Linked DNA regions of Homo sapiens. The protein of the gene in region 2 purifies or fractionates together with the protein of the main gene of each other region. This does not show direct contact. Each region holds a gene or a part of one and is shown on either strand. Other genes may lie near its edges.

What was found.
Region 1: the proteins of SMU1 (region 2) and DYRK3 purify together in Homo sapiens (affinity purification with mass spectrometry, with the first as the bait; one study listed by BioGRID). This does not show direct contact.

What each region holds. Positions count from the first base shown.
Region 1 is NC_000001.11:206,649,035-206,652,855, forward strand, and holds part of DYRK3 (dual specificity tyrosine-phosphorylation-regulated kinase 3), read left to right. Parts: 3' UTR 1-3,821. UniProt on the Homo sapiens protein: Dual-specificity protein kinase that promotes disassembly of several types of membraneless organelles during mitosis, such as stress granules, nuclear speckles and pericentriolar material.
Region 2 is NC_000009.12:33,070,030-33,073,850, forward strand, and holds part of SMU1 (WD40 repeat-containing protein SMU1), read right to left. Parts: intron 3,778-3,821; coding exon 3,567-3,777; intron 1,864-3,566; coding exon 1,711-1,863; intron 1-1,710. UniProt on the Homo sapiens protein: Involved in pre-mRNA splicing as a component of the spliceosome. Regulates alternative splicing of the HSPG2 pre-mRNA. Required for normal accumulation of IK.

The DNA.
Region 1 (3,821 bases), on a different chromosome or scaffold from region 2:
AATGCAAGCCCATTGGTGGATGTTTTTGTTAGAGTAGACTTTTTTTAAACAAGACAAAACATTTTTATATGATTATAAAAGAATTCTTCAAGGGCTAATTACCTAACCAGCTTGTATTGGCCATCTGGAATATGCATTAAATGACTTTTTATAGGTCAATGCATCTTTGTTATTATCGTCAGATGTATTTCAACTGATGTATTATACTATTGGTTTAAATCTCTTTCTCTCAAGATAGAAGGTGTAGCAAAAGTATCCCAACTACTCCTCGCTTCTAGTGTCCCTCGGCATCTGTTCTGGAGGGGTAATTTGGGATGTGGTGTTAGTTGTGGCTGAGAGCCAGTGCTAGGTCCCTTGCCCCACTAGGCCATTCTCTAGGCTCATTCTAGGTGAAAGAGCTCACAGCAGACTGTGGGGTGGGGGAGCACCAGGAAGCTGTTGGTGACCTGGACAACTGGTGTCCCTGGTTTTCAGTGACTCGCTCCTCTTCCCTTCAGTTCTCTGATGTTTGGTGTTATTATTTTATGTTGTTATTTTGCCTCTGATTTGTTTCCTAGTCACTCAAAGCATTTTACAGAAGCCTTACCACTTTACTAAATAACCCTGTAAGGTACTGATTTAAAAACTGAGTCATATGCATCCCTCCTCCTTTCCTCTCCCATGCCCAAGGAAGATAAAACAGCTTCTCTGCCACAATTGACCCAGAGTGGTAAAGATAGAGAATCAGCATGAAAACTGCAGTTCCCCAGCTTTGTGGTACTCCACGGACCAGCCTCCTTGCTGCATTTTCATAGAATCTCTTCCTTATAAAAGTAATCACTCTCGGATAAACCTTACTACAGTTTAAAAATGCTTCCCTCTTCTCTTTACAGCTACCTGCCACTTCAATGTGCCACATTTTTCCCCCCACTTTCACGTTAAGCTTAATGCTATTCCCTAGATCTGAGTGAACTTCAGTTAGAAGAAGAAAACTAAAAATCCAGAAACTGGTGATAATCAAGTTTTCCCTTTTTATGTTTCTTAATTTTATTCTCTTCAACAGCTTTTCTTTTTCTCTGCTAAGATTTAAACAGTGAGGGCTGATAATAAAACTAATTGTTAAGCCAGTGTCCTACTTACAAGGGTGGAGACGGGACAGAAGCTAACTCACTGCTACTGGGTTTTGTTTGTTGTTTCCTGTCCCTTGCTCTATTTCTGTCCTCTTCCAGAACAAAAGTATGCTCAAGTTCTATCCTAAATGTGTGCTCTTGGCTGGGTATTAGTGGCTCATGCCTGTAATCCCAGCACTTTGGGAGGCTGAGGTGGGTGGATTCCTTGAGCCCAGGAGTTCAAGACCAGCCTGGGCAACATGGTGAAACCCTGCCTCTACAAAAAATACAAAAATTAGCCAGGCCTAGTGGCACATGCCTGTAATCCCAGCTACTTGGGAGGCTGAGGTGGGAGGATCACTTGAGCTGAGATCATGCCACTGCACTCCAGCCTAGGCAACAGAGTGAGACTCTGTCTAAAAAACAAACCAAAAAAAGTGTGTTCTTTAAAGTAGAATATTTGCTTTTTACAATATAGTTCTCAGAATGATCCAGTTCCATTTATTATTCTAGAATGTGGTGCAAACTCAATGACATTGGAAGAGACTCTTTTTGTTGGGCAGTGTAGGAACAAGAAAAGAAAATAAAAATGCCATGAGTATATTATTTAAGGAACTTTTGTTTTATCCAAAAGTAGTCATGATTGCTGTAGCATAGGCTGTGAAAAATGAGAGAGTGCAAATCTCTCTCATTTAAATGTCCACAGTGGCTTTAGTCTCCCAAGTACAAGGGCCAGATGGCAGAGAACAGCTTAAACTGAGCCTTCAGCCTCATTAATAGGAGGAAGTCTTGGTACTTTTGGTGACTAAGAAACTGGATTATTTAAAACCTTAATTATCTCCTTTACTCCTGGTTTACAGAAGGCAATAAATATACAACTCCTTTAGATCCCTCTAACTCCTGCTGAATTTTCTTTCTTTTTTTCTAAGTCTGCATCCTATCTCTTGATTCCATTGCCTGAAGAAGCTGTGTGAAATTAGTCTGGTTATTGGTTTTCTTGTCTGATAGTGGCATCTTGATCTCTTCAGATGTCACACTAAATGCTGCTCATAACCCATCCTCCTCTTCTTTATTCATCACTGCCTTCTTCAAGGGAGGTCTTGAAACTGCCTCATCTACCTCATGATCTGCTAGTCGAGATAGTGACTCTTTGGAAGTTGGTAGTCCAATGTCTGCTTCCCCGCATTAACCACATTGCGTAGGTTTGGGAATTTTGCAGGTGCTAAATCATCATGGCCAGGAAGATGAAACACCTTGAGAAATGGGAACATCTCTTCACTGTGTTCTTGGATCAGCCTTCTTTCAACTACCAAGAAATGGATGATTTCTCTGCCAACTCCAGGAAGTAGTACAGCATGATTGAATCCTTCTTCAGTGAATCTTTTCATTGTAACTTAGGGTGTAAAAGCTCATATCTACTCAAAAAACTCAAATCTACTCTTTCAGTAGATATGAGCTTACATTGACTTATGAATGGTTTTCCTGTAGGCCCAACAGTGTCATGACCCTCCAGTTGAAACAAAGCATGAGTTATTTTTATATCGAGTCCTTGAACTGCTAGCCAGGTAGATGTTTCCTTGAAGTCCAGAGCAGGATCCAAGTCAGATGAAGGAGGTGGCACACCTGGCTTAACTGCAGATCAGGGAGCATTGAACCTCTACAATTTGCTGCATTGGATTTCTGCATGGGTTTCTCACTGAATAGTAAATTAGAGAAAATGCTACTTTTACTATTTTGCATTTTATATCAACATTAGCAGCCTGTTCCCACTCAGGTGCTGTCCAAGGCACATGTTTCCTTGGGATGTTTGGACAGAATGATCTGGCTTGATGTATTTCTTGGGCTCTGGTACCACATCATAGAGTTGGTTAAATGTAGCCAGCAGCAGTGTCAAGACAGCTGACACTGTCTTCCAAGAGTGAATGCATTGGCCTTTGGAACTGCTGCTAAAGCCATGTGTGGGGTGGCGAGCACATCTTTAGGTGGCAGCAAGGCTATATCTGATTGACACAGATCTGAAGTCTCTAACACCATATTGCTGTTGTCCTGAATTTTCTAACTTGGAGAAATTTAAGGATCTCCTGCATTATCTAGGCAGAGCATATGTTGAGGTTGTTTTGCCAGTTGTTATCAGTGTTGAAGAACTGCTCCTGTAAGCAAACTGTTAAAAGCATTACTACCCCATATGCATCTGATGTACACTGTGTTTTGGTGTTTGTGTTTTTAGTGAGAGTTCTAGCCAGTACTGTGCCTGAACTTGGGAGAGAAAGGGGCCTGTGGCTGAGGTTGGTGCGTGCTCTATTTCTGTGTATCGAATGGACTACAAGGTTACTGAAACTGGGCTAAGGGAAAGTGTATAGACAACTCATTACACTGTAGACAGATTTTAGAAAGCTACAGGAAGGCAAATGGATGTTTCTGCCTCAATTTGGCAACCGAGAGAGTGATGCAGAGCAGAGTCATTGAAGTTGGCATACCTGTCTTCTGCAGGCCAATTCAAGTTTGAGGAGAGTGGGCTGCTTAAAAACATGGTGCTCGTCCACATGGATTTGAGGAAGTTTATGGTTGGGTTTCAAGCTTAGGGACAAGTTGTGGTTTTTAGAGGCAGTAACTCTATGCCACCTTATTGGCCACTGTTAAAAGTTTCACTTGGATCCCTGCCCAGCCATAGCAATGAGTGACTGAATTGGATCAGAGTTAGTACAGAAATTCAGACTGTCTCTTCCTCAGTTA
Region 2 (3,821 bases):
CACGAGAATTACTTGGACCCAGGAAGCGGAGGCTGCAGTGAGCCGAGATCACGCCACTGCACTCCAGCCTGGGTAACAGAGCTCTGTCTCAAAAACAACAACAACAACAACAACAAAACCCAGAATATATAAGGAGCTCAAACAACTCTACGGGAAAAAAATCTGATAATCCAATGTTAAAAATGGGTGAAAGATCTGAATAGACATTTCTCAAAAAAAGACACACACAAGGCAAACAGGTTTATTTAAAGGTGCTCAACACAACTGATCATTAGAGAAATGCAAATCAAACTACAATGAGATATCATCTCACTCCAGTTAAAATGGCTTTTATACAAAAAGACAGGAAATAACAAATGCTGGTGAGTAAGTGGAGAAAAAGGAACCCTCGTACACTATTAGTGGGAATGTAAATTAGTACAACCACTATGGAGAATAGTTTGGAGATTCCTCAAAAAATTAAACATGGAGGTACCATATGATCCAGCAATCCCACTGCTAGGTACACACCCAAAAGGAAATCAGTATATCAAAGAGATATCTGCACTCCCATGTTTATTACAGCAGTGTTCACAATAGGCAAGATTTGGAAGCAACGATAAGTGACCATTAACAGATAAATAAAGAAAATGAGGTACATGTACACAATGGTGTACTAGCTGGACATATAAAAGAATGAAATCCTGTCATTTGCAACAACATGCATGTAACTAGAGCTCATTATGGTAAGCGAAATAAGCCAGGCACAGAAAGACAGACTTTGCATGTTCTCATTTATTTGCAGGAACTAAAAATTAAAACATGGAGATAGAGAGTAGAAGGATGGTTGTCAGAGGCTGGGAAGGGTGGAGGTGGCGGGGGTAAGAAGGAAAGTGGGGATGGTTAATAGATACAAAAAATATAAAGAATAAATAAGAAATAGTATTTGATAGCACAACAGGGTGACTATAGCCAATAATAATTATACATTTTAAAATAACTGAAAGAATTGAATTGTTTGTAACACAAAGGATACATGCTTGAGGTGATGGATACTCCATTTACCCTCATTATGCACTGCATGCCTATATCAAAATATCTCATGTACCCCATAAATATATACACCTACTATGTACCCATAAAAAATTTTTTTTAATCCTTTTTCCTCCTATTTTGACAAACCTCTAGTAAAAGGCTGGGGGGGTGGGCAGGAAGAATGAAACCATACAGATAATAAGGTTTAGGAAGAATGAAACTATACAGATAATAACGTTTTGGAAGAATAAAAGACTATCATCATGCTCTACTGGTAAGCATAATCCGCGAAGAAACAAAAGCTTCTAGGGACTAAAAAGGCTAGAAGGAAACTACAATTGTTAGGGGCAAGACACACAAATGATCAGTGAACATACCAGCAGTCAGGCAGCACTTCGGGGAGGGCTAATGTGGAAATGACATCAGAATAAAATGTTCTGCTTTTTTTACTAACCAACACGCAATCCTCTAAACTGAGGTGTATAGAAGACTCAAATAATCAGAAAACTGAACAAAATTATTCTCTTTAACATACGCAAATTTCAGCCAACATATATAAACAGAGAAGCATCATTCTCAAAAATTAAATCAAAATCACAAAGAGTATACAATAAAATGGTAAAAAAAAAAAAAAAAGATCATGTTATTTCATTTCCAAAGTTAACAAAAAGTTCCTTTTCATTACCACAGTCATACCTCACGAGGATCAAAGTAAGACCTGGCCAAAAGGTTCTCCAGATGAATATATCGCTCTGGCTGTGTTTGTTTTAACATGATCATGGGATCAGTCTGTCTCAAAAGTGACCTGGCAGCACCCAATTCACGGAGCTCTATCAATTCCAGAACAACCTGGACAATTAAAAAAAAACAAAAAAAACCCCAGATGTTTCAACACACCGTCTTATTAATATTTTTCGGTAAAATATCTAACACAGATATGGCCTGTCAAAGGATTTCCAATACCAGGAAGTGCCCCTTTCCATTTTCACTAGCAATTTCAGGTGGACTTGGTGGGCTTGGTGGCTCATGCCTATAATCCTAACACTGTGGGAGGCCAAGATGGGCGGATCACTTGAGGTCAGCAGTTCGAAACCAGCCTGGCCAACGTGGTGAAACAGACTCTCTACTAAAAATACAAAAAAAATTAGCTGGGTGTGGTGGTATATGCCTGTAATTCCAGCTACTTGGGAGGCTGAGGCAGGAGAATTGCTTGAACCCGAGAGGCGGAGAGTGCAGTGAGCCAAGCTCATGCTACTGTACTCTGGCCTGGGCGACAGAGCGAGATCTGTCTCAATAAATAAATAAATAATAATTTCAATCCTTCAAACTCTATCCTTCATTTTTATCTACCAATCTCCCCTCCTCTCAGGCTTCTTGCTCAGAATGTAGATGCCAAAGAAAGCTAAAGATGGGAATATACCCATGGGCTCCAGAGAAACCTTTCTCCAGTTACCAAAATTTTCTTTGGGAATTATTGAACTCATACGGATTGTAAAGAAACAAACTGCCCAGACACGGCAGCTCACACCTGTAATCCCAGCATTTGGGAGGCTGAGGCAGGTGGATCACTTGAGGTCAGGAGTTGGAGACCAGCCTGGCCAATGTGGTGAAACCCCGTCTCTACTAAACACAAAACTTAGCTGGGCGTGGTGATGCACGCCTGTAATCCCAGCTACTCGGGAGGCTGAGGCAGGAGAATCGCTTGAACCCCGGAGATGGAGGTTGCAGTGAGCAGAGATCGCACCACTGCACTCCAGCCTGGGTAACACAGTGAGACTCTGTCTCAAAAAAAAAACAAAAAAAAAAACCCGTAAACAAAAACCAAAAACCAATTTCACTACTTTTACTTCAAATTACAATCTTATTTCCAGAAAGTCTACTCTGCTGTTTTATAATCACAAATTTGTCTGATCTTTGTCCTAGGTTCTTGGCTTGGAGCTTCTTGGAATTTGACCAGTGATAGGGGTATCTTTGTTACTCCTGGGCCCCTTGAATCACACCTGGGTTTGTGCAAAGGAAATGGCTCAGGATAGGTAGGAGCTAGTTATCAGAAAGACTAACTATGTGATTAGAAAGTTGAGGCTCTCTCGTGCCTGTAATCCCAGCCCTTTGGAAAGTCAAGGCTGGCGAACTGCTTGAGCCCAGGAGTTTGAGACCACCCTGGGTATTATGGTGAGATCCTGTCTCTACAGAAAAATGCAAAAATTAGGCAGGCGTGGTGGTGCGTGCCTGTGTTCCTAGCTACTCAGGAGGCTGAGGCAGGAGGAAGGATTGATCCTGGAAATGGAGGATGCAGCAAGCTGTGATCTTGCCACTGCACTCCAGAGTGGGTAACAGAACAAGATCCAGTCTCAAAAAAAGGAAAGAATTTTAATTTGGGAAATCCTGGATTTTCCAAGAAGGGAGAAAAAATACAATGTCAAGCCTTGCCATTGTTGTATGGGCTGATGCAGCCCTACCGTGCTTGAAGGAATGCTCACTGACGCTTTTTAGTTGGGGAGCTGGCCCACAACGAACCAACCCATGGGGATCAGCATCACCACCACTCTTACCTGTTCATAGAGGTCAATGAGGGTTTTGTCTGGCAATTTCAGAGACTGTATAGCCTGCAACACAGTATCCCAATGGCCACTGTTAATGTCAGCCACAAAACTCTCAATGCTGTCCACAGTATTCAGAGACACAGTAGTCTCCTCCTGCAAGGTGGCTAACGCCCGATGTAAACTGTTCTCCTTCAAGTACTGCATAATAAGGCGGATCACACTGAAAGAAAACAAATCGTTCAGCTCAGGGATTCTCACTCACCA